Regions from separate parts of the Homo sapiens genome. Here region 1 is linked to region 2. Evidence: fine-mapped expression QTL. Tissue or cell type: subcutaneous fat. Region 2 holds a variant in brackets; the other region holds the start of a gene. All regions are shown on one strand. Distances are between the middles of the regions.

Region 1 (16,294 bases), 51 kb after region 2:
ACTGCTCGTTATCAATACTCACTCTTTTCATTTCAGAAGGAAAGACTTTAAAGTTAGTACAAATTCTTATCTTCTTCATGTAGGTTAATTTTAGGAAAATTCCCTGAGTAGAGAGAAGTGAGGAAGCCCCTGTGGGTTTTTTCATGAGGTCAACCATCCTGATCACTGAGAAAAATCACTAATAAGTAAAATTTTATAAAATCTGCACAAAATATATGAAGCTTACAGGTTACCCAGGTATAAATAATATGATACTTTATATACTGATTATGGAAGAACTTATGTGGGAAGAGCCTCTCTCTTTATATAAATTCATGAAGTTTTTCTTTTTAAATGTCTGTGATGAGAAGAAATGGCAACGAATATCACAAAGTTCTAATATCTTTAATATATGTGTTACCTTTGGCCCTCCAAAAAGCATACACCAAGATAAGATTTCATCATACAAGAGATTTACTAGGAAGTGCCTGTAAAGGCAAGGAGGGAGGGAGCTGGGAAAGGTTATATGGTTTGGCTATGTCCCCACCCAAATCTCATCCTGAATTGTATCTCTGATAATTCCCACATGTCGTGGAAGGGACCCAGTGGGAGAAAATTGAATCATGGGGGAAGGTCCTTCCCATGCTGTTCTCGTGGTGGTGAATGAGACTCATGAGATCTGATGGTTTATAAAGGAGAGTTCCTCTACACAAGCTCTCTTGCTTACCACCATGTAAGATGTTGACCTTGCTTCTTATTTGCTTTCAACCATGATTGTGAGGCCTCCCCAGCCATGTGGAACTGTGAGTCGAATAAACCTCTTTCCTTTATAAATTACCCAATCTCAAGTATGTCTTTATTAGCAGCATGAGAACAGACTAATTCAGAAGGTAAGGAGAGCCTCCAGACTATGGTCCAAGTTGACACCTTCTGAAGAAGAAGGGAAGGAAAAGTGTCAGACTGTTGCACAGTTACAAGGAAGTTTTAGCTGACGTGAGACAAATTCACCAATTCAAGAAATCCCATATATTACAGTAATGAGCCTGCATTAGAACCTTTGCCCTGCTTTGCCATTGGTTGAGAACAGCCTATAGAAAGTGTGGCATGAATGCAGGAATGGACCCAGAAGAGCAAAATCTAAGAGAATCTAAGTCAATTATGCTCCTTGCTGTAGATCAAATGGCATGTTTTCAAGGCCACCATAATACATAAGAAGTTCTTACAAATCAATATGATAAAAGAGGAAAATACCAATATCAAAATGGGTAATGGACATTATACCAAATTGTCTGTTGTCCACTCAGGGTCATTTTTTTTTTCTTTCTATGCTCTTCTCTGCATTGCAAAGGCTAGAATAATCTGTGCCATCGGGATTCTGGGTCACAATTCACCAATGAGAGGAATTTTGTGAGATTTTGGAAAGTGGAAGAGAAGCGGAAGCCATTTCTCACCCTGTAGCAGTGTTGTGCAAGGATGAAGACTTCAGCCAACAGTAGAGGTGAGGTTCTGCCAGGATCTCCTGGGTGACCTGCACATCATTGGTGCTTTAGGCAGCTGAAATCACCAACACGGTTTCCTGATACACCTGCACTTCAGAATTCCCAGAGGTTAACAGTAGCTTTCTCTAATCTGTTTCCCAATATTTCCCAGCAATATTATAAGCCTCTGATTCCCTGTATTAAATCCTTCCTACGTGAAACAACTACAGCAGTTTCTGACCAAATCCTGGTGTATTAGTTTGTTTTCACACTGAGACTGGGTAATTTATAAACAAAAGACGTTTAATTGATTCACAGTTCTGCATGGCTGGAGAGGCCTCAGGAAACTTATAATAAGGTGGAAGGTGAAGGGAAAGCAAGGCACCTTCTTCACAGAGCGGCAGGAGAGAGAGGGAGTGCAGGAGAAACTGTCATTTTTAAAGCTATCGGATATCATGAGAAGTCCCTCGCTATCACAAGAACAGCATGGGGGAACCCACCCTCATGATCCAATCACCTCCCACCAGATCTCTCCCCTGACACATGGGGATTAGAATTTGAGATGAGATTTGTGTGGGGACACAGAGCCAAACCATATCACCTGGCTAGCAGAAATACGGACAAGCAAATCACAAACGAAAACATAGAAATGCCAAATAAATGTAAAGAAATAAAATCATAACTAAAGAATACAAATTTTAAAAAATGAGATATTATTTTTTACTTATAAAATTGCCTACGGTTTATTTTATTTACATATATTATGTACTTGTCTAGTTTATTATAAACAGTCAAAGTTGGCAAGAGACAAACAATAAATAAGTAAAAAAACAAAAAACAGGTTCTGTTATGCACTCCTATTGGGAGTTTATATTTTACATCTACATTTGTAAAACCTTTCTAGAGGTCAATATCTGTTATAACCTCTTAAATGTTCATAACCTTTGTTATTCTAATTTTAGTTACAGAAATTAATCTTAAGGAAAATTTGGAGTACAATATTATATGTAAGAGTATTTATCAATGTGGCACATATACACCGTGGAATACGATGCAGACATAAAAAAGAATTGAATTCATGTCCTTTGCAGGGACGTGGATGAAGCTGGAAGCCATCATGCTCAGCAAACTAACATAGGAACAGAAAATCAAACACCGCATGTTCTCACTCATAAGTGGGAGTTGAACAATGAGAATACATGGACACAGGGAGGGGAACAACACACACTGGGGCCTGTCAGGGGATGGGGGGCAAGGGGAGGGAAAGCATTAGGACAAATACCTAATGCATGTGGGGCTTAAAACCTAGATGATGGGGTTGATATGTGCAGCAAACCACCACGGCACATGTACACCTATGCAACAAACCTGCACATTCTGCACATGTATCCCAGAACTTAAAGTAAAATAATAAATAAATAAGAGGATTTACCACAGTTCAAGTTATAGATCAGAATTTTTTTTAAAGCCTGAATATTTAAATATTTAATTTGTCATGACATACAGTGTCTTAGTCTGTTCAGGCTGCTATAACAAAATACCTTAGACTAGATAATTTATAAACAAAAGAAATATATTGCTCGGGAAGTTGCAAAGTCCAAGATCAAGGTGCCAGAAGATTTGATGCTAGGCAAGCGCCCATTCTTCATAGATGTCGCCTTCTGTGTGTTCTCACATGGCAGAAGGGCAAAGAGGCTCCCTCTATTATAACAGCACTAAGTCCATTCCTGAGGATGGAACCCTCGTGACCTAATCATCTTACAAAGACCCCACCTCTTAATACCATCACCTCGGAATTTAGGCTACAACATATGAATTTTGGGGAGAACACAAACATTCAGACAATAGCATATACATATAATAGAATCACTGTGGAGCTCTTATAAACCATGTTTTGGTATAAATGTAATAATAGAATGAGTTCATGATATAATATAAGTGAAAAAGTAAGATATATAATTATAGGTACAGTATGATTACACTCTTTTATATAATGTATACAATGTATAATATGTGAAATATATATGTATGCATAATAAATACATGTACATAAAATATTTCCTGGTATGTACATGTGTATATATATTTTTCCATGTATATAATTTATACACATTAACAAAAAATGAGAAAATATGACAAATATTTAACAATAGCTATTTCTCCAGTGGCAGGATTACAGATAATTTTTATTTTCATACATTTCTGTCTGACTTTTCCAAATGTGCTATTATGAGCATAAATTTTATAATTAAATACAAGTCAATAAGCATTTTAAAGTGCCTATAACAGCCCATCAGCAAGTGAAGAGATGAGATAAAAATGTGTCTGCACTTGGTACACATATTGACTTTCTTTTACTTCCATTTCCAGATGATATTGACAAAGATATTGAAAAAATTTGATTAATATGCCTCAGCTTAGATTTGCTATGCGAGAGCAAAGTCTTATTGTTTTAAAGGAATTATTTGCTGATCAGCTATAGGCTGACTTGACCTCATATTCCTACCATGATAGTCCCACAGTGTAGGGATGGGGTGGTATGACTCCCAAGACTTGGAGTATGTTATTTTCTCAGGGCAATGAAGATTTGGAAAAATGATGGCAAAGACAGAATTACTATCTCATCAAAGACATCCCTCAGCAGTATCTGTGGGCTGTGCAGTGTTCTCAGTTCGATAAAGGATTAGAACACAATGCTTCTTTGGAGAGCTGTGACTTGATACTGCATCAATACCTTTCTGAGAATTGTTTTTCATTTTCTTGCCTCTTTAACTTATTAAGCCTTAGGAGAATTAGTTGAAAAGCCAAGTCTTTGGGGTAGATACTAACATTAAGTCTTCTACTCTGTCATTTGCAATCATAAATTCCAGAACACAGCTCCTAATTCCATTGTGTATTGTTTTCTAAGGGAATGATAGACAGATTCTTTATTTTTTTAAACCTCTAAGCCTACCACACTTGCCGAGTTCCTCACTAGTCACTAAGAAAGTCCTGCCAATCAATGCATGGGTTTATGTCCATTGCTCAGCTCTTCTCCAATCAGACTCATTCCCCCAGCATCCCTGACACACCACTCTAAAATGCGGCTGCTGATGGTTCACCTTCCTCACTTTTGTCTACAAATCTCAATCCTGCTGATTCCACAAATCCTACATCAAGCAATATCATTTTATGAGTCTTTCCACAACCACCCCTTCAGGGGATTCTTCAATTTCTGTCACACCGGAAGTCTTCAGAGTATCACCCTCAGAGCCAGGCAAGAGGGACCCCGGCTAGGGTTTCAGGCTTTAGAGAGTCCAGCTCTGACTCCTTTTGGCCATAGGACTAATGTGATATGCCCACCTGGAGCCTGTGCCCTCCTTTCTAGACCATGCCCTGGGACTCAGAATCCCTTGCCCCAGATGGCCACACAATCACTTTCAGGTCCATTCTCTCTGGGCAGACAACATCACAAATGTGTGTACCCCAAGGCCTGAGGCCAAGAAGGCAGCTTTCTGGCTGTAGGGGCTGAGGTGTTCACACACATTTGCATGGCCCCTCAAGACAAAGAACAAGGGGGAAAGTGAGAAGAAAAGAAGCAGCCAGTGATCAGGGCCAGCTCTTGCAACTTAACCATGTTGGGTCATTCTGATTAAACCACTTAGCTCAAGTGTAGTGCTCAAGACACTTAGCACATTCTCCAGCTGAATTTACCAGTGTTCATGGACTACCTGGGTTAGAAATATATTTCACTATAAAGTAGCATACAAAATGAGCAGAAAGGGAGTTAATAAGATTAATAATAGAGTTAGTGAATATTATGAGCTGAGTTTTTGAGAAACGTAATTTCTTTCAACACTAATAACAACCTTGTGGGGGTTCATTGTCTCCCTTTAAAAATTAGGAAACCAAGGCTTTGCCATGGTCGCATAGGAGGGTCAGAATAGCATCTTTATGACCCCAGAGCATACTCCTCTCCACTCCACCTACCCATGTGTACAACTCAGACACTTTCTGGGATGTCCACGTCAACTATTCTTTAAAGAGTAACCAACAGATGGATAGTTTTCTGTTTGTGAATCAATGGTAGGTGACTGAAAAATTGGTTCTGAGAGGTCGTTTTGCAAGGATTGATGGTCACAGGCTGAGAAGCAGATTTGAAAGACCTACCTGCTAGCAGCATGAAGAGCTGCTCTTCCTTATCTTAGTATTAACTAGTTAATTATTGGAGGTGGGTGCAGGGGTGGATTATGTGTATTCTTAATTGTTGTAGAGTGGGGACTGGGAGTTACAAAGACTTTTGCAATTTTCGACCTTGCAGAGCTGAGCAATTTTCAGTTGCTTTGCTTGCTGATAGCACTGCTTCCCTTATCTACCATGGAACACATCTTAATGAAGAATTTGCATTCACAGCATCAGGTTAATGAATACAAAACAAAACAGTGTATATCCCTCTGATGGATGGGATTTCGGAAGCACAGACATTATACACATATTTGATGATAAAGTACTAGAAGTGCAGGGAATTGAGGTCAAGCTTCCTCCTAAGGGGACTGAATCCCAGAGAGAGCAGGTGACTTAGTAATGAGAAGTGGAGCTGTCTGTTCAACCAGGATGCTCCTCCTATGGCACGAAATTCAGTTTTAAAAATATATTAAATTCAAATCAAATGTGTTAGGTGTGAGTTCTATCCCTACAGGTATGAGGCAGAGGTGGAGGACTTTGTATACAATAGAGAAATAAATACATATATTAGGTCTTCCATGACATAGGATTTACTGACCCTCTCATGGGCATTCCTCTGAGGCATTTTGAGATTTATTGCTATAAAAGAGCCTCCCAAACATTATCTCACTTAGAAAAGGTAATCATATTAATATGATTTTGTTCACAGGAGAGAATTTAAGTGCCACTGCTTAAAGTTATCTCCTTGTTCCTAGGTTTAAGGAGACCTAGTAAATAAGAACATTCCACTTTGTCTGCATCAATAAAGATGAAAGATGACTTAGGAGGTGGGAATTGGAGTGGGAAACATTTTTCTATGTTCCCGATATTCTGAAACACATGTGACTTTATTCAATCACAAGGTAAACAGATTATGTAATTTACCAGAAAAAAAGTAATAAGACTGGTGGTGCTAGGTTTTCATACTCCAGCTATTAATGAATTAAAGAGAGTAACACTCCTGAAAGGATACCATTTTCTCAAGAAAACTGGAAAAGATTGTGTGGCATTTAAAAAATACCAAACTCTGTGGCCATAATGCTCTTAAAATTCATCTGTCTAAAGAAATTAGAAGTGAATCATATTAAATAAGGTTTAGATATGTCCACTTTATCTTCCTGAAAATATAATTTCATTACAATCAGATTTGTCATATTTTATCTGATTTTACTTGCTATTTAAAACACCTTATAATTTACTTGCATATTTAGAATTACAATATTCTTAATATACTTCTTGATCTTAACAAAACCTAGGCCAAATGTTAATCAAATCAAGCTGTTCAAAGTTACTTTATAGCACATTCCTATGAACACACCATACACACAGCAATATCTAGCAAGGGTGTCAATTTTTCGTTATTTTTAAAAGCTCATTTAAAGAAGTTATTTACTACAAATGACTCTACACACACACACGCGCGCGCGCGCGCGCACACACACACACACACACACACAAACCTTTTTAAAGAAACGCTAGAACCCAACCCCCTCTAGGCCAGAGGAAAACATTACAGCTGTATACGCACTTGTGCCTGTTGCCGTAGAGTAATACGGTAGCAGCAGGAGATTACGGTACTAGCTGGGCTACTGCCTGAGTTACGTCAGCGAGAGCTGCAAAGTTCCTTGCTATTCTTTTCTGGTGTCGGGGAGCTGAATATTAAAAGGGTGATTGTGGAGTTACCGGTTATCTGCATTTTTTTTTCTTTTCTTATTTTGACTCTTTTTAAAAAATGCAGGTAAAGTGACAGCGGTTCAGGAGCTTAAAGACATCAGTGGTGGAGGGGTGAGTCAGCGGGTGCAAAAGGACAAGGATTTGGTGCCTCGGAGACACGGTCCCCTCTCCGCCTCCAGAGAAGAGCAGGCAGGCAGCTCCCGGGACCGAAGCCGGGTCCACATCCCCCGCGCGCGAGCTGGTGGCTCAGCAGCGGCGCTTCAGGTGAGTGCGCCGGGGCCGGCGTCCCGCAGGGCCGAGTGGGTGAGGGCAGACCTCCCCCGCCGTCTGGTGAGACGGAACCCCCACTTTTCCCAGCGCCTCCCGCTTTTTCCACCAGGTTTTATACCGGCCCCTCTACCCCACCCCCGATTCCCTTACATCTTCTGCGAAGTTGCCTTCTACTGAACAAGTGTCTTTTTAACCCTGTGTTTATCACCCTCGAGGTAGGAGGAAAAGGGTTTCTGCAGTGGCACGTTTTTAATACCACCTGTGAGGTCTCCAACTTGCGATTTTAACAAGAGTCTTTGCCCGAGGTCCCACCTCAGGGCCCAACCCCAGAAGGCAAGGTGGGCACTTCCTCACGCCGCGCTGTCCTGCCGAGTCCCTGCGGTAGGTTCGCAGTTGTGGAAACCCAGGTTTCTTACGCAGATGGTGGCCCCCAGCCCAGAAAATCGAAGGCGGCCCCTGCCCGCTGGCATGCCGGCTTAATGTTTACGCCTGCAAAATCCGCAGTGACTGTCACTTGCAAAGCTCCCTCTGCAGAGGGACGTCCTCCCCACCCCGTCCCCCGCCAGTCCCGCTACGGCTGGCAGCTGGAGCCCCTCGGGTGGCCAACAGTGAGGCTTGGAAAGGCGTCGTGGACAGACCTGGGTCGCTTTCTGTCTTCGGGTCCCTCCCGGCTTCGCTCGGGACCTGGCTCTCAAGCCAGCTTGGCTGGTGGACAGACCGGTGCGCTCTGCACACCCGAGTGCGAATTCCACCGGCGTGAGAGTGAGCGTGCTCGTGGTCCTGGCCCTGAGGTCCCTGGGTCGCAGCTGTTCCCTCTCCCAGGCCGCCCCCTCCAGGTGACTGCGAGGCAACCTGTTCTAACGGAAACCGAGTACATCCTCCAGAATTCCCCGGCTAGGATCCGTGCGACACACTCGCCAGCCGCAGTCGCCCCTCCGGGGCTTCGAGGATTTTAATTTCGTGGTACCTGCGCTCGAAATCCAGACTTCGAGCGCTGGAGCCTGGGGTTTTGGGGATTTGTTTTTTTGTTTGTTTTTCGCTTCGGATCCTGAACTCGGGCAGAGGTGACTCAGTAGAGTGCGCTAGGCAGGTTCCCAGTGGTGGGGGCGCGAGATGAGCTCCGAAGTCGCCTCCACCGCTGCCGGGCGAAGCAGCTTCTGGACCGCAGAACCAACCCGGCTCCCAACTGGTGTCCCCCAACCCGTCAAGCTCAGCACAGCCTCTTTCCCTGGGGCGCCTAGCTCAAAGCCGCCTTTCTCTTTGCGCTCTTTCAGGTGGACGCGGTCAAACGATGCCCCGCAGCCTCCTGGGTCTCAGCACATATTCCACACCTACGTCCCCTGACCTGTGCTCCTAGAAGCTGGAGAGAGCAGGAGCCTTCGGTGGGGCAGCTCAAAATGTAGGTAACTGCGGGCCAGGAGCAGCGCCCAACCTGTAGCGCTGCGCTACCCAACCATCGGTCCCTGCCTTTGAGCGTCGACGGCTGATCTTTTGGTTTGAGGGAGAGACTGGCGCTGGAGTTTTGAATTCCGAATCATGTGCAGAATGCTGAATCTTCCCCCAGCCAGGACGAATAAGACAGCGCGGAAAAGCAGATTCTCGTAATTCTGGAATTGCATGTTGCAAGGAGTCTCCTGGATCTTCGCACCCAGCTTCGGGTAGGGAGGGAGTCCGGGTCCCGGGCTAGGCCAGCCCGGCAGGTGGAGAGGGTCCCCGGCAGCCCCGCGCGCCCCTGGCCATGTCTTTAATGCCCTGCCCCTTCATGTGGCCTTCTGAGGGTTCCCAGGGCTGGCCAGGGTTGTTTCCCACCCGCGCGCGCGCTCTCACCCCCAGCCAAACCCACCTGGCAGGGCTCCCTCCAGCCGAGACCTTTTGATTCCCGGCTCCCGCGCTCCCGCCTCCGCGCCAGCCCGGGAGGTGGCCCTGGACAGCCGGACCTCGCCCGGCCCCGGCTGGGACCATGGTGTTTCTCTCGGGAAATGCTTCCGACAGCTCCAACTGCACCCAACCGCCGGCACCGGTGAACATTTCCAAGGCCATTCTGCTCGGGGTGATCTTGGGGGGCCTCATTCTTTTCGGGGTGCTGGGTAACATCCTAGTGATCCTCTCCGTAGCCTGTCACCGACACCTGCACTCAGTCACGCACTACTACATCGTCAACCTGGCGGTGGCCGACCTCCTGCTCACCTCCACGGTGCTGCCCTTCTCCGCCATCTTCGAGGTCCTAGGCTACTGGGCCTTCGGCAGGGTCTTCTGCAACATCTGGGCGGCAGTGGATGTGCTGTGCTGCACCGCGTCCATCATGGGCCTCTGCATCATCTCCATCGACCGCTACATCGGCGTGAGCTACCCGCTGCGCTACCCAACCATCGTCACCCAGAGGAGGGGTCTCATGGCTCTGCTCTGCGTCTGGGCACTCTCCCTGGTCATATCCATTGGACCCCTGTTCGGCTGGAGGCAGCCGGCCCCCGAGGACGAGACCATCTGCCAGATCAACGAGGAGCCGGGCTACGTGCTCTTCTCAGCGCTGGGCTCCTTCTACCTGCCTCTGGCCATCATCCTGGTCATGTACTGCCGCGTCTACGTGGTGGCCAAGAGGGAGAGCCGGGGCCTCAAGTCTGGCCTCAAGACCGACAAGTCGGACTCGGAGCAAGTGACGCTCCGCATCCATCGGAAAAACGCCCCGGCAGGAGGCAGCGGGATGGCCAGCGCCAAGACCAAGACGCACTTCTCAGTGAGGCTCCTCAAGTTCTCCCGGGAGAAGAAAGCGGCCAAAACGCTGGGCATCGTGGTCGGCTGCTTCGTCCTCTGCTGGCTGCCTTTTTTCTTAGTCATGCCCATTGGTAAGTCTTGAACACCCCTCACTTTAGCATCTGGGGGTCTTCACCCTCCTCGGCTTCTGTTACCCCAGACTCCCAGTCCGGGATGGAAGAGGAAGGATTAGCATTTCAAACAGCACAGCTCTAGGGCAATTAGAAAAGGCTCCCTTGTAGAAAAGTGAATTTTCATTCTCTTTCTACTCCAGTCTCATTTATATTAGGTCCTAGAGCACTTTTTCGACTGTAAAGTGGCTTCCAACTGATGCAGATTAATTGGTCTCTTTAATAAGAATGTCAACTTTTCTTAATGCCTATAAGCACGTGTTCAATTTAAATGCATCTGCTCTCTCTAGTCTCAGAGTCTCCACCAAGTGCTTAGGCTGACTGTGGAATGCCATTTTCACTCTGCTACAGAATGCAAATTCTCTTGGCCTGAAAATAAGTACCATGCTTATTCTGGACAAATGTGTGATTTTATTATTGCATTAGGTTATTCATAAGGGTTTGTTATAATGGTCTGTTTATGTTCTATATCTGTGCTAATTTTATTTTCTGGATTCAGTATGGAAGGAATTATGGTCAGCCACTAAGAAAAAAAAATGATTTTATGTCCAAACCAATTTAAGCCTTAAATAATTAATCATAGTATTTCCAATAAGTAAATACTTATTTTTTTATTTTAATAATAAGTATTAAAACAAACACTTCTCTTATCCAAAATCATCCGGGAAGTTGCAGATAACACTGTTTGAAAATAATACAGTACACATAATGTTACAAATCCAATTTTTGCAGATGCTAAATTAGCTGTTGTCAAAATTAATTAGCTCATTATAAGTATCAGCAAGCTGATCCACTTGGAATAGACATCTATCTCCTTCAATGAGATCCCAAAATGGTTGTGTGCTATTTTTAGTTTGTAAGCTCAAATACAGACCCAAACATCGATTATCCACCAACTCTAAAAAACAAAACATTATGCCTAACATTAATAAAAGTCCATTTCAAGTGCTTTACAGCCTAATTTAAATGGCATATACTTAAAGTACTTTAATTTGCAACTCTGTGGAATAATAGCAACTATTATTTTTTTGTGCCACTTATGTTCCAGACATTTTCCTAAGCTTTTTATTTCATTAGTCCCCTCGACAACTCAGTGAGTTATACACAATTATCCTGCAATCACAAGCCATGGGAAGGGATTCTTCAGGTTCTAATACCATAGCCACCAGCCAAGGATAGCTATTTAAATGTTAATTGAAATTAAATAAAATTCTTTCAGTTCCTCAATTCCTCAGTCCCACTGACCACATCTCAAGTGCTCCATAGTCACACGTGGCCAGTGACTACTGTTTTAGACAGCAGAGATATAGGTCATTTCTATCATTGCAGAAATGTCTGTCCTGTAGGGCTGCCAGAGAGGCCCTCCTTAATCCAATACCTGGCCTTCCATTGTGCCTGCCCATCATTATTACTTACTCTGCTCCTGGAAGTACATCACAGCTTTGAAATTATAGAAATTACACTCTTTACCTGAGCCCCTTTGCACACGTATTCATGCGTGTGCTCGCTCAACAAGTATTTATGGACCATCTGTTCTAGGCACTTTGGATGAACAGGGCAGAAAAGTCCTTGCCAATGAGACGGTTGTATTTGGAAAGGGTAGACATAAGCAAATGATTGTATCCTAAAATGTCAAGATTAACATGCACTATCAAAAAATCAACAGGATGAGAGGCTAGAAAGTGACAAAGACAATGAGGGCCTGCTTTAGTGGGTAGTGGGGAAAATTCTGTCTAAAGAGGTGATATTTGAGCAGAGTCCTGACTGGACTGAAGAGCAAAGCTTGCAAGATCTGGGAAGAAGAGCTTCCTGGGCAGAGGGAGCAGCGAGTACAGAGATGGGAAAGAGCCTGACCTGTTCAATGAAGATCACAGAGGCCAGTATGGCTCAACTACAGACAGGGAGGGGGCAGTCAAGTTCAAGAAGAGATTGGAGAGATAGACAACACCAAAGTCATATGGGGTCTTTCAGGCCAAAGTAAAGTTTGCATATTATTCTAATTGTGGTGGGAAGTCATTCAAGGGTGTTTAGCAGGTGAGTGGCCAGTCTCATTTATATTTTTGAAGGATCATTCTGGTTGTTGGGGGGAAAATTGGCTGTTTGGGGGCAAGAGCAGAAGCAGAGACTAGTTAAAAGGCTATTAGAAGTCGAGGGGAGAGAGGTCATGACATCTTGGACTCAGGTGAGACAGGTAGAGGTGGTAAGACGTGATCACATTCAGCACTTATTTTACAGGTAAAGTTGATGAGTGTGGACAAGGGTGTGAGAAATAGGTAGGTTTAGGGCCTGAATAGCTGAGTAAATAGTAATGCACTTCACTAAAACTGGCAAAACCAAAGAGTTATGTGGCTGCAAGGGGCTGCAGGGAGTGAGAAGTATGAGCCTTTCTTTTGTATCACTGTGTTGAGAAACATTCATTAGACATGGAAGTAGAGATGGCAAGTAGGGAGTTATACACTTTACATAGATTTGGAGCTTAGAGAGGAGGCGGGCTACAGATATAAACTTGGGATATATCAACATCTTTAAAGCTACAAGAATGGAGAGGTTGACAAGAGAAAAGATAAAGAGAGTAAAGAGAGATAAGAACAGAGCCTCTGCACCTTTAGTCCCAGCTATTTGGGAGGCTGAGGCAGGAGAATCGCTTGAACCCGGGAGGCAGAGGTTGCAGTGAGCCGAGATCATGCCTGCACTCCAGCCTGGGTGCAGAGCGAGGCTCCATCTAAAAAAAAAAAAAAAAAAAACAGAGCCTCTGGGGGTCAGGTCAGGAAAAACAGGAGAAACAGCCAGCAAACAAGATTGCAAAGGAGTAGCCAGGGAGAAGAAAAATCAGGAGAATGTGATGTCCTGGAAGCCTAGTGAAAATGTTTCAAGAAGGCAGGAGTAATCAGCTGTGTCACATGCAGCTGAGAGGTCAGGTTAGAGGAGGACTGGGAGCCAACACTAGATTTGGCAGTAAGCAGGTTTTTAGTGATAGGAGGAAGGCACGTGAGGCTCACAGGTCCAGAGGAGTGATGGAACCAAAAGCCTGATTGTGTACTTTCTAGAAAGAACAAAGGATAAAAAAAGTGGGAACAGGGAAAATAGACAACTCTTCTGAAAGGTTTTGCTATACACTGGAGCTAGGAGATGCGGTGTAGCTGGAGGGGTATAGAGAGAGCTTTCAATGGTGGGAGGTGGGGATATGACATGATATTTATATTCTGATGGGAACGATGGGATAGAGAGAGGCACTGATGGGATAGGCAAAAGAGGCAACGGGATTCAGTGCCCAAGGGGAGCATTGGGAAGTGACAAGGAGAGCAAAGTGTGTGAGCCCTGAGGCAAGTAGAGACAGAGGGAGAGAGATAGTGATCTCTTTAGGATATGTTTATGTCCTCAGTGAAATATGAAGCAAGGTCATCAGCTAAGAGAGAGTCAGGAATGGGGAACGATGGCAGTTTTAGCCTCAGAGAAGGTGTGAAAGATTCATCTTTGAGAGTGGGACAGTAAACATTTTATGGAAGTTTGGTAGAGTCACTGGGAAGTCCTGAAGGCCTATCTGAGATTTACGGTCATAACATTAAAGTACAGCGGGAAGGAGGGTTGTGTGTTTTTCTCTAAGAGCTAAGCAGCTGAGGGATACAGGAGGCAATGCTGAGGACCTACTGTGAGTCCCAGAGAGTGTGTGTGTGAAGAGACACAGACTCGGTCAGGTTAGGGAGCATCCACAGCCAGGTTGTAGAAGGAGCCCAGGTGACGATGGGTGGCCTGAGAGTTTGGAGCTTGCAGTGGTGGCTGAGCTATGCATAGAGATGAGAAACAATGGCCTGGGTCCTGGAGTCATCTAGGGGAGGTGGATGCTCTGACTAGTCATAGCCCGCTCTTGGATTTGCTCTCCCAGGGAGTCAGCAGTGTGGAGGAGAAGATGTTGTGGTGGAGAGAAGTGGTGGTAGACAGGAGCCCTCGGAATCACTGGGCTTCTTTTAAATCCTAGTGAGGTGCCAGGCGCGGTGGCTCATGCCTCTAATCCCAGCACTTTGGGAGGCTGAGCAGGCGGATCACTTGAGGTCAGGAGTTCGAGACCAGCCTGGCCAACATGGTGAAACCCTGTCTTTACTAAAAACACAAAAATTAGCTGGGCATGGTGGTGCACGCCTGTAATACCAGCTACCTGGTAGGCTGAGGCTGGAGAATCGCTTGAACCCGGGAGACAGAGGTTGCAGTGAGCTGAGTCACACCACTGCACTCCAGCCTGGGTGACAGAGCGAGATTCTGTCTAAAAAAAAAAAAAAAAGAAAAATGATATGACAGGAGGGAAGTAGGGAACATACAGTTCACAGGGTCTGAGTAGCTGCTCAGTAGTGCAAAGGATCCCTGAACCTGCCAGTCTGTGGCTCTCAATTTCTTCCTGACACCAATTGAGTAAGAGATGATTTCCTCCAAGAATGTACTGGCTATGTAATAAGCACCAGGCTCTCAGCTACACAGAATAAAAAAGATGAATAAAACACAGTGCCCTCAAGGGCCTCACAGTCTAGTTAAGGAGACAAATTGTCAACAATTATTGCAAGTCTATGACATAGGTGCTCAGAGTGATATTATTACATGGTGCTCAGGATGGTGCTCAGAATGATATTATTACAGTGTGCTAAGGAATATAGCAGTTCATTGTGCCGAGAGGTCACTGAGAAGCTTCTACATGCATGACCATTGACAGAGCAGAGACTTAAAGAAGATGGCACTACTTCTGCTGGGTCGTCAACGAGATGTTATATGTTTTTTTATTAACTGTCTTAAGTATGTTTTTCATGCAAAATGTGAGCAGAAGAATAAATATACTATCATATTATTATATTCAAGGGACATACATTCTTAAATATGACGTGCTGTTTTGGAGAAAAGGGCTGTCGGTCTGCACTAGGCTGCGGGAGAGGAAAGAGATTAAAAACTGAAACCAGGGCAGGGATGAGTGTGCTATCCACAGCTGAGAAGTGAAACACCCATGTTTAATAGGGACTGACCCAGGAAAATCAGGTGAGTAGGCTATTTGACTGCAAAGGTCCTTCCTGTATATTGTGAGAAGTCTCACGTTCCCTTTTCCCAAGCTTCTTTCCACTAAGGCTGGGTTGCTTGCTGCATTGAATAGCATGACTGTTGGGAGGAATCTGACTTGCCTGCTTCCAAGTCTAAATCTTGCTAATCTTGTTCCATTTTTGCATCCTAAATGTTTGGTTGAAATTCAGAATGCCTTCAAGGGAGGGGGGTGCCATGTGCAGTTGTTAACAGTCATTTATACTTTGGAGCAAATGCTTTCAAAAGCAAATTTTGGCCATGGAGATGAGTAGAGAGACTATGACGGTGTCAGCCTTCAACCTACGAAAGAGAAGGAAGGATAAGAACTCTGCTTCTCAGGAAGCTCCAGCATCTAAAGCCTATGAATCATCTTTGTTGATTTCATCTCATTGTCTAGAGCCCACTAGTTCCAGAGGCAGTGTGCTGCTGAATGGAGAAACTGTTGGCCTGAGATTTAAACCTAGGCTTTCTTTTTCATATAACAGGGGATGTTATATAGGTCAGCTGCCCAGCATAGTGCCTAACTCAGAGTAAATGGTAATAAATGTTCATCTTACCAGAATTCAAATGATTCACAGACCATTACTGATGTATGTCAACATGCAGATGTTGCCATGAGGGGTGGATGTCCTTGGCATTCTAAGAAATAGAAAGCATTGGAAAGAAGATGAAAAGGCAACAATCACTGAAAACATAGTTACGTGTCTGAATTCTGGATATGTTATCTGATTTAAACACAAAACCCAGCGTTAT
Region 2 (16,294 bases):
TCTTACAGTCTCAAGTCATTTTCACATGTAGTAAGGTCAATGCTTTTTTCCCCCCACCACTCTCATTGAAGTTGTTTCATATGTTTGTAGTACAATAGATTATTTTGTAATATTATTTATTCTACCCTGGATGTGGTGACATCCTGTATGATAACTTTTTTAATGACTTTAGACCCAGAGAGTAACAGAATCAATACTGCATCAAATAGAATAAATGATAAAACCTTGAGAAATTTTCTCAGTAATGCAGAGGAAAATGCCAAAAATACGAAAGAGATCAGAAGAGGAAAACATTTCCCCAAATAATTAAGCTCAAGTAAATCCACATAAGAAAATTTTGAAAAAATACTGTATAAAGTGTTTTTATAATACACTAAAACTGTATTTAATTCAAACAATTACGATAATGTAGTAAAGATGCAGGGAGCAACTGAAAGCTCAAGTGAGTAAAAGGCAAAGTCCAGAAACTGACCTAAAAATATATTGGAGTTTAACACAGTATGAAAATGGCATTTAAAATCAGCCTCCTCTAATGTTCTTTCTGATCCTAATCTTGTATGCCAATCTTTCACCCACATAATTATATTGTCCAAATGCAGTTACTGCTATAATGAGCACTGTTGTTTAGGAGCTTTGCCATGAGATATTCTGGCTGTGGTCATACAGACTTGTGTGGCTGTTACTAGAATGTCTAACTCACTCAAAGGGAGTGACCAACTGTCGTAGTCTGTTCCTGCTACTATAACAAAATACCACCTACCAGGTAATTTATACACAACAGAAATCTGTTTTTCACAATTCTGGCAGCTGTGAAGTCCAAGATCATGGTGCCAGAAGACTTCATGGCTGGTGAGGGCTGCTCTCAGCTTCCAAGGTGGTGCCTTGTTACTTTATCCTCTAGAGGAGACAAATGCTGTGTCCTCACACGGCAGAAGAGATCAAAGGGCAAGAGACACTAGTTTACTTGCTTCAAACTCTTTTCTAAGATCACTACTCATGAGGGTGAATCTTTCATGACTTAATCACATTCCAAGGGTCCCCACCTCTTAAACCATCGCCTTGGGGTTTAAGTTTCAACACATGAATTTTGAAGGGACACATACATTCAAAGCATAGCACCAACCATGCCTATCACTGTGCCCAAAATGGCTCAGCAAACCTATTTATGGTTGGAGCAATAACAATATAGAAGATAACTTGATACAAGTGTTGGCCAGACGATAAAAATTCACAAGCCTCCAGTAGGAGGAAGCATTTGAGATACACTTCACCTAGATTGCCTGGGTGGGGCAAGGATGAGATTTTTCCTAGTGAAAGAAATCTAATCTTGGTCAACCATGTCGAGGCCCCAGCACAGCTAACTGAATGAAGTTCAAGACCAGGCTTAAGAGTAGCTGCACTGCAGGAAACCAAGGCAGATACTCACTTATATGAAGTAAATCAACCCAGGCCCCAAATACCAGGAATGAGGAGGCAAGACCTCAGGAGACTCTGGTCTCTGATATTGGTGCAGGGACTCGAGCCAGCTGAACCTCTTGCAGGTTAAATGCCTATAGCTGGCAAGGTTGGAGATTGCAGGTATTGTGAAATCAATCCCTTGGAAATAGGCTGAGTCAAGAAATATTCATAAATGAAGGAAGAGGATACATGAAGAGAGACGAAAAGCTGCTGCAGAGACTAATATCTTGTGATTTTCTCAACAGACGTGCTCTTAACATACTTTTACTATTTTTGGAACTCCCTCTGACTGATCCGGGTCTGGGTGAAATGCTTTCATCAGCTATAGTCTTACAGGAAAAGGGAACATGTTTTGCAGCTATCTCTTAAGGCAGTGTTTCTCAAAGTAGGAAATTTGCACCCCAAGAAATGGTGTGTCCTGCATCATTTCCTCACATCCCAATAGCTGGAAAAAATGTCTTCACACACCCTTCTCTTTTTTTGGTCAACACCTCCCCATTCTTCCCCCAACCCCCACTTTGTCCTGGAGTTAAGGAAGGTGCTGAAAGGAGGAGGCTTGCCAAAGTCAAACTTGAAAGATTCATAATTTAGCCTTTGGCCGGGCCTGCTGTTTTCATGTGAGAGCCAAGAATAAACCTGAATCAGACCAATGCCACTTTCTGAAGCCAAGAAATTTTAGAATCACAACCAGGGTACAATTCTAAAAAACATACATTATCTTTTGCTGTTACATTTCCGTTGATGTTTCATGATTTGTATTCATATAGTGTGGTGTGTGCGTGTGTGTGTGTGTGTTTACACAATGATGGTATTATATGTAAGAGTGAGGTTAAATATACTAACCTGCATCCTATAATCAAGGCTCCTTCATTCCTTGACATGAATTCCCAGACCAAGCCATCACCATCTTAATAGTTCTGATTCCTTCCCTATGCCCATCTTCCTCTGGTTCTTCATTTTCAGAGAAGGGCCTAAAGCTTTTTTATGATATGAGTAACTTATACTCTTCATAAAAGGAAACTAACATTTATAAAGTGCCTACAATGCATTATTTTTGTTTAACCCTAAAAAATCAACAAGATAGATATCATTATGTTTATAAATGAAGACATATTTTAAGAAAATTAATTTGCTCAAAATCTCACAGCTATTAGGTGAGAGAAATGATATTTGAGTATAAGGATGTGTGCTGTTAACAACCATATACTTTCTACAACGTCTTAGTTTAGTGGTAAAAGTGGAATTAGTTTTAAGGTATAGGGAGAACAATATGTGCCTTACAAATGATCTCAGGAAACACAACAGATTCAAACACTACTGAACATATTCAGAACGATTAACTTACGCCAACACTACTAAGAGGAAAACAGGAAAGAAAAACAAATAAATACAAATATTTCTTCAAATATATTTAACCCAATCCCAATTCATCTTTATCCATTTTTAACTTGGTGAGGACTGGAGGAAAAAGGGGGCATTGTTCCATGAATGGAATGCTCAGATTAAGAAAACTGAATTAAAACATTGTTTTCGACACCTATAATTTAACAACCACAATTTTTAAAAGTTTGTTACGGCTGAGTGTGGTGTTTCACACCTATAATCCCAGCACTTCGGGAGACCTAGGCAGGAGGATCACTTGAGCCCAGGAATTTGAGATCAGCCTGGGCAACATAAGGATACCCCATCTCTACAAAATTAAAAATATTTTTTTAAAAAATTAGCCAGTCATGGTGGTATGCACCTATGGTCTTATCTACTCAGGAGCCTGCAGTGAAAGAATCGCTTTATCCTAGAAGGTCGAGGCTGCAATGAGCTGTGATCATGCCACTGCAGTCCAGCCTAAGTGACAGAGCAAGACCCTGTCTCAAAAATAGAGAAATAAAAAATAATTTTTAAAGTTTGTCATAATCACTGAGAAATGTGATTCTTTAGCTATTACTTATCCTACAAATCAACAAAATCAAAGAATCAGAATTTTTAAAAAAGAATACACCTTTGGAAATTATCTTAGCTAATGATTTTCAAACCCATGGTGCCCTTATGGAACCTTAGTTCCATAGAAATCTTCCAGAACCTTGGGAGTGCTGAGAGAGAAATCAGTGTCAGAAGAAAGCAGTGAAAATTAGTGGACACCCAAATACAATTTTTTTGGGAAAAACATGGTTCCTTAACTTTAAAAGTTTGGAAATACTTGTCGCAGAGACTGCTCACTGTATAACTCCTAGTCTGTCATTTCTCATTGGTAACAGAATCCCAATCTTATTGGAGATGGCAACGTACTCAGTTCGAGGACTGCATTTCCCAGCCTCCCTGACAGAGATTAAATTCTAGCAATGAGATGTTAGCAGAAGTATGACATGGGACTGCTAGGACAGCACCTTGAAAGGCATGGCCACCCTTTTGTCCTGTTTCTCTTATTTTCTCTGTGCTGGAATGTGCAGGCAATGGCTAGAGTTCCAGTCAATGTGAACTACAGGGGACCTTGAAGGCAGAAGCCATGACTGAGCATGAAGCAACTCAAAGTAAGGAGCTTCAATTTGAGATGACCGGATGGTGCCACCAGACGATGTCAGTCCTAGACTGCCTGTCTCCAGACCTATTTTACAAAAGTGAATCCATAAAATCCTATCCTGCTCAAGTCAGTGATCTTTCCTGTCACATAACCAGATGAAATTCCTAATGATAAACCACATTTAACATATAAAGAATCCGAGGTCTTAAAAATTTGCCTTTCAGAAAGGAGTCAACGCTAAAGGAGTTAAACATTTATCCACTGTTTTTTCTTGGAACCCCAGTTTTAGTAACTTCCCAGTCATCTGAGTGTTCCTAATAGAGAAGCTGTGAACATTTACTAGAGCACATGCTCATAATTCACAGTTAATTTTACAGCAAGTAAAGGGAAATTTATACGCATCTGTGAAATTAAGCCAAACCATATAATACTTAGAAACAAGTGAAACCAGTGGGCCATAAAGATAAAAGACACACAAATTAAAACAATTTAAAAATGATAGTAAAATACACTATTACATTAGGTCAATATATTTTTACTCTGGGACAAAAACTTCAGAAGGAGTTAATATAAAATGCCCATTAAAGCTAGCTAGAAAGTTAAAAATGCAGTAGGAAAATATGTAACGTTGTAGAGTTAGAGGGAGTAAGTATCCAAATAATGCAAAACTTGAATATGTATTTTACCAAAGATATTTAGATAAGTTTTGATTTTGGGTTTTGAAGTGGGAATTACAAAAAAAAAAAAAAAGAGAGAGAGAGTCCAAGAAATATACTTGACAATGTGTCATGGTGAAAGCTGTTACTTTGACTTCACACCGGTCATGCCTATAACTCCCCTTTTATTTGTGAAAAGTCTGAGAATTCTGTGCAAAATAAATGAGAAATAAAACCAAAGCCCTCTTTCTTTCCAAAATATTCACCAACCCAGCCTGGTGCCTTTTTATTTTATTTTGTTTTTGCTCTGAGAGATTGTTTGAAGGAGTATTTGTATCCCTAGGTCAGTATTTCTCCATCTAGGCATGCTGACACTTGGACTAGATAATTCCTTGTCTTGAGGGCTGTCCTGAGCATTGCCAGATGCTTGGCCTCTACCTGCTAGATGCCAGTAGCAACAACTCCCACACAGTCATGACAATCAAAAATGTCTCCAGAGATTGTCAAAGTCCTGTGGGGGGAAATCCACTCACAGTTGAGGACCACGATTTAGGCTGTGTTTTATTTCACTCAAAGGTTACAGAAAAAGCCTGATGCTAAGCAAGTTAGAAGCAAGAAAAGAATTTGCACACTCCTTCTGCCAATTTTTAAAATCCATTATCTTAGAGGAGTGGGACAATAGAGTTGGCTTGGAGAGGCTCACCAGCTATGGGCTCCTCTCACATAAAGACCCTTGTATCTCTGCTCAGACCCTGAGAACTTAGTGCTTATGATGGCCAAGTCACCCTGGGCACAGGCCAAGGGAAGCACTCTCCCTGCTAGTAACGGGTCTTTACTACTGCTCCTTGTTTTCTTCCCTTTGGCTTTGAGGGTACTTTCTGGCAAGAGAGGAAAGAAGGCCTGAATATTTCCTAGTGGAAACACTGTCAGGGTCTTTCTTGGCCAAATTGCCTCTGGCTGTAATGAAATAACTTGGAGTCAGAGCAGAAGTGTCCCAATCTTCCCCAAAAGGCCATGGGCTATGCTGGACAGTACGTAGTTTCCCTTTGCAGTGTTCCTGCAGAATACATTTGCTAAAGTTATGCAGAATCTGGTTCCAGATAGAAACTATTTGCTTACCCACCTCTCCTTTGTTATACCCAACTGCAATGTCCCCAGAACTGCAGCGCAGTTGAAATATTGGTACTAAAAACTAGAGAAGTGTAGCATCCAGGTGTCAAAAACATTAATAGATTTCCGCAAGAAATAAGTGGATAGATTGAAGGAAAAGTCCACCTACTTGAGAGTCATGTGAGGAGAAAAAAACCCACCTGGAGAGCATGTAAAAAGTATCTCCGGGGTCCCCTGGGGTCCTTTGTTTCATGTAATTGCATATTCATCAGTGTCTGACTTTGTCTTTGGATTATAAACTCCATGAAGGCAGGAACATTGCCTTTCCTCTCCATTTTACCCCAGTGCTAATCTTTTTTGAATGAATCAATAAAAAGAGAGGATTTCTTTTTTGCACAGGTGTTTGCCCTTCCTATTTTTTTTTTGCTTTTTATTTTATTTTATTTTGAGACGGAGTTTCACTCTGTTGCCCAGGCTGAAGTACAGTAGTGGCACGATCTCAGCTCACTGCAACCTCCGCCACCCGGATTCAAGCAATTCTTCTGCCTCAGCCTCCCAAGTAGCTGGGATTACAGGTGTGCACCACCTCGCCCAGGTAATTTTTGTATTTTTAGTAGTGACAGCGTTTCACTATGTTGGCCAGGCTGTTCTCCAACTCCTGACATCAGGTGATCCACCCACCTCGACCTCCGAAAGTGCTGGGATTACAGGCATGAGCCACCACGCCCGGCCTGCCTTTCCTTTTTTTGTATGCAATGTTTTTACATACTTTTTATTTTTATGAAATCTAATGTATCTATCTTTCCTACTTTTGGGGCATTTTTAGAATGGGCCTTGCCGCCCCAAGATTACATAAATATTCAACAAAATTTTCCTGCAGTACTTTTATGGTTTCATTTGCAAGACTTAATTCTGAAATCCATCTGGATTTTATTTGTGAAAGAAGTGAAATAGTGCCAACTATTTTGTTTCAGAGCCAGTTTCTCCCAAGTTGAAAACTTCAGCTATATCCAGTAGTGTGATGTTATTAAAGCTGATAGGATTTGAGATCAGAAGGCCTGGTTTTAAATTCAGCTCCACTCACTGTGCAAATTTTAGCAAGTCCTTTAACCTTCTGAGAATTCTCAACAACATTTATGGGAAGAGGACTCAAGGGAAGAGACGGTTTAGGAATTCCCGTGAACAAAACAGCCTTTGAAGATAAAGATGGAGAGTGGAAGGGTAGCCTGATGGGTGGGAGCGTGTGCTTGAGTCTGACTACCTGGGCATCTATCATTGTGCCCCTCCTTTGTCATTGAAAAATGGGATAAAAAATAGTACCCTTTGCATGTTTGTTTCTGCAAATCTCATGTTGAAATGTGATCTCCAATGTTGAAGGCGGGGCCTGGTGGAAGGTGTTTGGGTCATGAGAGCAGGTCCCTCATGGATTGGTGATGTCCTCACAATAGTGAGTGAGTTCACATGAGATCTGGTTGTTTAAAGGTGTGCAGCACCTTCCTCCATCTTGCTCTTGCTTTCGCCATGTAGTGAGCCTCCTCCCTCTTTGCCTTCTGCCATGATTGGAAGCTTCCAGAGGCCTCCTTAGAAGCAGATGCCAGCACTATGCTTCCTATACAGTCTGCAGAACTGTGAGCCAGTCAAACCTCTTTTTTAAAATAGATTACCCACCCTCAGATATTTCTTTATAGCAATGCAAGAATGACGTAATACACTTTCTTTGTGTAGTTTATCATAATGATTGAATAACAAATGTAAAGCACTAAGACCAGCGTCTGGATCATGGTAATAAGTAATAAGCATTAATTCTCACGGAAAGGGATGTCATTGTTTCAGTGAGGATAACAGAAAAGATCCCCCATCCATATCCTTTGAAGAAACTAGAAAAGTATGTCATCAAAATATGCTTCAATTTTCTAATTTTCTCTTGTAGCTGTTTTGAAATATGCAACATATTGTTGTTAACTGAAATGTTCCTAACACAAAGAAATAATAAATGTTCGATGTAAGGGATATCTTAAATACTGCAATCATCACACATTGTATGCATGAATCAAAATATCACATGTACCCCATATATATGTAAAAATCTGGAGTATTAAT[A/T]AAAAATAATAATTTTTTAATGTGTTTCAAAATGAGCTAATGGGAACAGTAAAGAAAAGGTAGTAGAAACATCAGTTGGCTGACAATACAACCAAAGTGACTTCCAGTTCCAGTTTCCTTTTGTTCTTGCAAATGTATTATTGTCTGTGGTCTGTCCTTCAGATGAGAAGGGTAATCACTAATGTTTTACAGTTTTAAGGGAGTAATTTTATTAAAGTCATTAAATTACTACCTTGAAGTTTATAAAAATCAATTCCTTTTATATGGATAGATTTTAATAACATAAATGGAGATGAGCATCTCTAGAAAAGAACTGATAAAAGTGGCACATACTGTTAAGAAAGTGGGTTGCAAGAGAATACTTACTTCACATGCCCAATCATAATGAATCTTTTTTTTTTTTTTTTGAGACAGAGTCTGCCTCTTTGCCCTGGCTGGATTGCAGTGGCACAATCTCGGCTCACTGCAAGCTCCTCCTCTGAGGTTCAAGCAATTTTCCTGCCTCAGCCTCCTGAGAAGCTGGGATTATAGGTGCCTGCCACCATGCCCGCTTGTAATCCCAGCTACTCAGGATTATGCATGGCTAAGTTTTGTAATTTTAATAGAGACAGGTTTCACCATGTTGGCCAGGCTGGTCTTGAACTCCTGACCTCAAGTGATCCGCCCGCCTTGGCCTCCCAAAGAGCCGGGATTACAGGCATGAACCACCACACCCAGCCCCATAATGAATCTTTTCATTACCATTTTGAGCCCCTAAAATGCTGAAGGAATGGGGGGTGGGGTGTTTTTTAACTACACGGTATCAGAGAATAATAAATACTCAACTCCTGTTTTCACATCTCCTTTCCCTTCCTAGGATTTCCCTGGATTACAGGCTCTGAAATGGCCTAGCCTCATATCAGACCAGGCAGGTGCAGCTCAAGATATGTGACTTCCAGAAACTGCTTTCAGTGATTAATGGAATTGTATATCTCTTTCATTAGGTCCATATTAAGGGCTTTATTACTTGAGCTGAATTTAAAACTCATTTAGAATTGCTTATCATTTCACAGTTCATCACATAACCAGATAGCATTACTCAACTAAGGATAAAATAAATCTGTTTTATTGTTTTGGGTTCTTTTTTTCTTTTTTGCTTTCACAGAATGTTTTGATTTTCTGACACATTCTCTTTGACAACAGAAACATTGTCAAGTGGCATGTTCCCATAGAGAATATAAACGCTCATTTGATATTGATGATTGTAAATACGGCTTGATCATTTTAAGTTTATTAAGTCATCACATTTATAACTTTTTCCCATGAGCAATTTTCCTATAGTATATTGAATCAGAGAAGCAGCAGTTATTGGGAACCTTAAAATAAATGGACTGTTTTTCCACCTATGCCTCATGTTGGGGGATCCTTTATCCCCAGCCGGCTCCTCAGTCAGTGAGTTTGGTTAGTGGGCTTGGTGGTGGGAGTGGGGGCAGGTAGGTACAGGCTGAGTATACGCTCTACAGCCACATTCAAAGAAACAGCCAGGGCTCCCTTTATCCAGCTCACTTATCCGGTTCAGTTATTACCCTCTTGGCCAGCCCAATGAATTTACCTTTGGTGAGCTGACCAGCACATTCCCTGGCCCTCACTCCTCTGACAGCTCAGCCAAGCCTCTGATCCTTCTGTTCTAGCCTCTGGGTGGATAACTGCAGTCAGCCCTTTGCTCTTCGGTGATGGCCAGTTATCTCAAACACAGAGGCAGGAGAAAACGCCCCATTTAGGCTCAGGTTCAAGCCCTATTCTCCATGACGATATTGTCAACAGCAAAACTGGGGCTTGACCCCCGTTTGCTGTTTTGAGTTTCTTCTGTACACATTGGAAGCCAGAGAGAGAAAGCAGTGATCAGCTGGGACTCCTGCTCTCATGGCACAACGTGCTCACCATTTGTTCAGTCGGGCACCAGGCCATGGAGCGGGAGCCTCATGACTGATGTCAGCAGCAGCAATGAAATCCCAGGTTTCCATTTTCACATGGAAAAGAGCCCTACTCTAATCCCACCAATTTTCAGTTATTGTTTCTTGACATTAATTATCTGAAACAGCAAAACGTCAAATATTATTCCATTTTGATTTCTATTTCAAACTGAGATAGGAATCAGATCCTGGGCAAAGAATGTTTGCTCGAAACTGGAGGAAGAACAGTCACTTACTAATTTACTTCCACCGAAAAAAAAAAAAAACGAATTAACACAACATTCCCTTTTCTTTCATAATCGTTCTCCATCGAGTTTTCTCTTTCAATTTTCAAAAAAACTAGGTTCTCAGATGAGATATTAGTACTTTTCAATTTTAGATAAGAAAATGAGTCCCACCCCCATGCCATCCACTATTCATTTCAGAATTCCAGACTGCTCTGCTGACGTTTTCAGGCAACTGTCAACAGATTGGTCGATGATATGGTTTGGCTATGTCCCTGCCCAAATCTCACCTTGAACTGTAATAATCCTCACATGTCAAGGCCGGAGCCAGGTGGAGATAATTGCATCATGGGGGCAGTTTCCCCCATACTGTTCTTGTGATAGTGAGTGAATTCTCAAGAGATCTGATGGTTTTATAAGCATCTGGCATTTCCCCTGCTGGTACATTCTCTCTTTGCCTGCTGCCATCCATGTAAGACGTGACTTGCTCCTCCTTGCCCTCCACCATGATTGTGAACCCTCCCCAGCCATGTGGAACCGTAAGTCCAGTTAAACCTCTTTCTTTTGTAAATTGCCCAGTCTCGGGTGTGTCTTTATCAGCAGCGTGAAAATAGACTAATACAGTTGAAGATCAGTGACTGGCCAGATGATGGGCCCTATAAGTTGTCATATGCATGCCACAAATACACTCAACAGACCTAGGTCAGCACTGGCAAGGTTTACTAGTTTTATTATTTTTTTCTGTTTACTTAGGGGTACCATTCCTTTTACTGGGAGCAGGAACTATTTCCATGTTGACAGTTATGTTTGCTTCCTGGGGCTGCTGTAACAAGTTACCACAAACGTGGTGGCTTAAAACAACTGAAATGTATTTTCTCACAGTCCTGGGAGCCAGAAGTCCAAGGTCAAGGTGCTGGCAGGCCACACTCCCTCTGAAGGCTCTAGGGGAAGAATCCTTCCTGGCCTCTTCCAACATCTGGTAGCTCCAGCTGTTCTTTGGAAGAGCTGCATAACTCCAACTTCTGCCTCTGTTTTCTTTTTTGTTTGTTTATTTGTTTCTCTTTTGTTCACAGCTTTATTGAGAAATAATTCACATACTATACATTCAGTCTCTTAAAGTATACAACTAAATGATGTTAGTATATTTTCAAAGCTTTACATCACCACTATCTAATTCTGGAATATTTTTATTCCTCCCAAAAGAAACCCCATACCCATTAGGTGTCATGTCCATCCCAGTCCCTAGCCCAAGGCAACCATTAGTTTACTTTAAGTATGTGTAACTTTGCCTATTCTGGTCAACTTCTTTCTTTCTTTCTCTCTCTCTTTCTCTTTCTTTTCTTTCTTTCTGTCTTTCTTTCTTTCTTTCCTTCCTTCCTTCTTTCTTTCTTTCTTTTTCTTTCTTCTTTCTTTTTGGCATAGCCTTTTCCTCTGTGTTTTCTCTCCTTCTCTTGTCTTACAAGGGTCACTTGTCATTGGATTTAGAGATGATCTCATCTTGAGATCCTCAATTTCATTTGTAAAGACCATTTTTCCAAATCAAATCACATTTATAGGTTCTGGTGGACATATATTGTGGTGGGCCACCGTTCAGTCCACTATGCCAGAAATGTAAAAACAGGATGCTTGTTCCTGTATTTCTGATATATTTTAGTAATTTAAAGCCCCTTAGAGATGACTGACTGTTTGAAGCTTCCCAGTTGGCTGCATCCCAATCTGGCTATTGGCTAGGGAGAGGAAGTCATGCACTGAATTAAGAGACGTTTGAAAGAACAGGTTCTATAAAAGAATTCTGTACACTCCCCCACCAAAACCCAACTGGTAAGTGCTCAGTGTTTCATGAAGCCAAACTTGCTAACACAACAACTCCGCTCATTCTTCTCCCTGAGCAAAACCACCATCCTGTTAAAACCCAAACCTCCACCTTTCCTGCACTTGTGCCTAAGAATGGACCAAAGGACTGACTGACTTCAAATTAAATTCATGACCAGTGACAACAAATTGACATTAAACACGCATCAGCAATTCTACCTCATCTGCCTAATAAGTCTGTTTTCCACACTGTAGGACAAAATTTCCTACCTTCTCCTCTGGCCCAGAGGGTCCAACTCCCAACATTCTTAGCTGATGATCTTGCATCACACTTCACTGATAAAGCTGAAAATCTCCCATCCTCAAATTTATAATAAGCTGACATCCGTATCTATAATCTCAGTGTTCTATCTTGTTACAAATGTATGATTCATTTTCCTGTCAGACTCCTTTAGGATAGCATCTCAACACCCTTTCTGAAGGATCTCACTCCTGCAATTAGCCCTTCTCTCCATCATCAGCCTTTCCTCCATGGGTCACTTCCACCAGTATCCAAGGATACTCTACTAACTCCAGCATCTTATGAATAAATTCTCCCTTGGGGTCTTAGTCCCCTTGATGCCTTTTTCTCCACTCCTCTTTTTGGGAATTTTTGTTCATTTTTCAGTTCATCTTCCTTGAATTTCATTTCCCACAACTCATTGGATACTACCCATGTGTAAGTCTCAAAACTCCCTCATGTTGTCAATTTCATCAATCACCTCCATGTTCTCATCTTCCTTAACTTTTATTTTAACAATTTCCCTCTCCTTTGCAGATTTCTGCACATTAGTAGTGAGCTCTATTTTCCTTATTCTATCAGTGACTTCCTTTTTTTCTCGATGCACCCAAATTATGCAGAGATAAAATTCTACTGCTAGTCTGCTAGTCTACCCACCCAGTTCAGTTTTTCCCATATGGGTGCATATATATATATATATATATATAATCAGTTACCCCAAGGGAAATATACTAACAGAGGAATATGTAAATGCTATTACTAAAACAGATATATTTAGCTGTTTGTGTGTATATGTACAGATGTACAGCTGTGTGTGTGTGTGTGTGTGTGTGTGTATATATATATGCAAACAGCTAAATATATCTGTTTTCGTAATAGCATTTACATATTCCTCTGTTAGTATAAAATCTACTTATTATACAAAATGGTCAGTGAGTTTCCAAAGTCTACCAGGGTGATGAGTAACTATTTCAAAAATTGGCAGGACTTTTGTTTTCTGTAAAGATGATTGAAGCATGACTTTTTGTGCAAATTAGATTGCTATTTTTTTGGAGTAAAAGGGTCTGAATATATCTCTGAGAAGGTCAACACTTGTTGAGCCCTTTATAGTTTTCAGTGAAATTTCATATTCTTCCTTTTATTTGATCCTTACAATAGCCCTGTAAAATGCTGGTATTTTTCCACTTTTCACATACAGGAAGGAGGATCATGGAGTCTGTACGACACACCTGACTCCCTCCAGCTGTTACTCAAGCCCATGGCCACCACCCCAGTGTCCTTAACCTTGGGTGCACATTGGAATCACCTGGGGAGTTTTGAAAAATCTTGATGCCAGGCTGCACCACACATCAATTAAATCAGAAGCTCTGGTGGATGAGACCAAGGCATCAATAGTTTTGAAAATGCTCCAGGTAATTTAGTGTACAGCTGTGTTTGACAGCCATGCATTGCTCCATCCTTTCTGGAACACCATCGTCTCCCAAATTCAACGCCCTCCTTTCTCATCTTTAAAAAGGGTGTTTGCCGCATTTTACAGGGAAGATGACCTCTTGGGATGAAGTTTCTTGCAAAACTTCCTTATAAGGAAGAAAAAGCATGAAGGAACAATAGCAATAAGTTTAGATATATAATTTTCCCCCAAGCCTCTGATGGAAATTTCTACATCTATATCAATTGGAACATAAAAGATGTCAAAAAGTGTGCAGTGTGATTGATGGGAAGTATTAAAACATTTAAGCCTGTTTCATAGTTTTTCACATATCATATGGTATTCATATTCAAATTCACCTTCAAATATTTCATGGATATCATCTTCTTATTCTTTCTAAAAGAATTACAAATGTGGTCCTAAAAGTTGACTTACCTGTTTTATTTTTAGTAGCTAGAGATAATGTTAGAATGGTTTGAGGAAGACCCCAAGTATCTTAAATGCTTGTCCTAGAAGTGCACTCTACGTATGTAAGATCTCACAACTGCTAGTTGTAAAAGAATTTTTACAATTTCACTGCTTGGCTCTGAGGGCTGGCTTTGAAAATGGCAATTATTCTGCTGTGATAATGAAATAGCTCTGCACCTAAACATGCACTGGGGAGAAGCAGTGTTGGTAAAATATAAGCCAGTAGCACACTGCCATTTTTCAACTATTAAGAGAGTATTTTCCTTGCAAAGTTGGGCTACGTATAAAAGTAAGTAGAAGTAGTCCCAGAATACAAGTATATTACAAGACTAATAGCAATATTATTGAAAGAATCATAATATAAAAATTTGTTTTAAATGGTGGTTCTTAACAGCAGTTCTTAAGAATATAAGATTACATTGTTATATTATATGGTGAGACCATTGCCTCACTTTGCCATATGTAAAATGAGAATATTCTTCTGAAATTCACACAAGCCTGGAAAGTTTGCTCTTAATTTTCTCAGTATCTAAAGAACAGAATAAAATCAAATTTTGTTATTACTGAATTAGTTTCCATTACCATATTTTAAGTAAAATAAATTTAATTTTTTTTTAGGTGATTGATAATAAGGGGGCTGTTGGAGACCATTACGTCACAACCATTCATCTTTAAGGATTTAACTGGAAGAGCAAACAACTCTTTCTAGAATGTCATTGCCATCAGATGAATGCCCGGCTTGAGAAGTGGCTTCCTGTTATTACGGTGTGAAGTCTAATTCTTTCACTCTAATTTCTTAGACCACATCTACCCATTTTGCTTCTTCCTGTTTCCCGGCATGCACTCTGTTGCAGTCAGGCTGCTTCCTGCCTGTTGCCCCACCCACTCCTTCATGCTGTGTCTGTTCATGCTGCTTTTTCCACTGGATCCTCTCTGTCTCCTCTCTCCCCAGAAAAAGTACAATCATTCCTCAAGGCACCATTCAGGTCACATCCCCTCCATGAAACTTCTAACTACTCTGGACCACAGTGATCTTGCCATTCTCTAAGGCTCCACTTCTCTCACAGGACCACAATGGCTACATGTCCTCCTGGCCCTTCTGTAATTTTCTACTCCATGCTAACCCTTGCTCTGAGGTGCCAAGGAGAGTGCACACAGATGCCCAACACTGACAGACCAAACCCTATAGCATAGAGAACTGACATCCTACTTCCTGTGTAAACACAGGATCCATCAGAACCTAAAGGCAGTTTTGATGGTTAATTTTATGCATCAACTTGACTGAGCTACGGGGTGCCCAGACATTTGGCCAAACATTATTCTGGGTGTGTCTGTGAGGGTGCTTATGGATGAGATTAACATTTCAATCAGTAGACTAGTAAAGCAAATGTTCTTCCCTGATGTGGGTGGGCCTCATCCAAAGATAATTGAGAAGAAACTTCTCCTGCCTAACTGTTGTTAAGCTGGGACATCAGTGTTCTCCTGCCTTCAAACTCAGTCTTAAACTGTAACTTCTCCCTTCAGTTCTGTTGGTTCTCAGGCCTTTGGACGCAGTCTGAAATGATGCCATCAGCTCTCCTGGGTCTCCAGCTTGCCTACTACAGATCTTGAGGCATGTCAACCTCTACAACCACATGAGCCAATTCCTTATGATAAATCATAAACACACACACACCGCAAACACACACACACATTTCCATCCTATTGGTTCTGTTTCTCTGCAGGGTCCAGATTAAGACAGCAATATAGACTGTGCTCAAACACTGCTACATTTACCATCTCAAGATGGAAGGAGCCCTCAAAGTAGCTCTTTAAATGTTTGCAATGTGCCGGGGTAGTCAGCTGACCTTTTTCTGCCCCTGTTTAATTGTCAGAAAAACATAAGTTGGATTTAGTGCTCCTTGAAGAATAATTCATCTTTAAAGTTCTGTAACTCTGATTTTTATTCTACTCAACAGATGGACTTTGGCCCATTGATTTAGCACCATGTCAGCATCATTAAATTTAACTAAACAAAGTCTGCTCATTGTGCATTTACCTGAGTGACATTATCCGTGTATACATGTACAAGTGACATGTCAGGATTTCAGCTGAGGTGTGATTGATAGACTATTAGGGACTATTGGCAAGTAGTCTAAGCTATTCCTATCTTAATACGTACCCTTTATGTCATTCAGTATTAACCAGTATGTAAAGAATTAGTGCTACTTGGCCCTGTTTTCTCCCCAAGTCTAAGGTAACACAGTAGACTGAACCTTCTGCTCCTGCTGGTGTAGCAGTCTGCCAGAGC

Evidence for each region.
Region 1: ADRA1A starts here. The variant in region 2 is fine-mapped to the expression of ADRA1A in subcutaneous fat (TwinsUK, PIP 0.95).

The regions. Positions count from the first base shown.
Region 1 is chr8:26,858,240-26,874,533 of GRCh38, reverse strand. It overlaps ADRA1A (adrenoceptor alpha 1A), which reads left to right and starts at 7,256. Exons shown (of 3, transcript NM_000680.4): 1 at 7,256-7,598; 2 at 8,879-10,447. The coding sequence starts at 9,565. LOC124901917 (a long non-coding RNA gene) reads right to left here. Exons shown (of 3, transcript XR_007060866.1): 2 at 16,099-16,180; 3 at 15,752-15,841. RefSeq lists an enhancer at 8,035-8,986.
Region 2 is chr8:26,909,110-26,925,403 of GRCh38, reverse strand. No RefSeq gene overlaps it. Among named protein-coding and RNA genes, the nearest start is that of ADRA1A, 50 kb to the right of the region's middle. The variant A/T (reference allele first, on the strand shown) is at 7,840.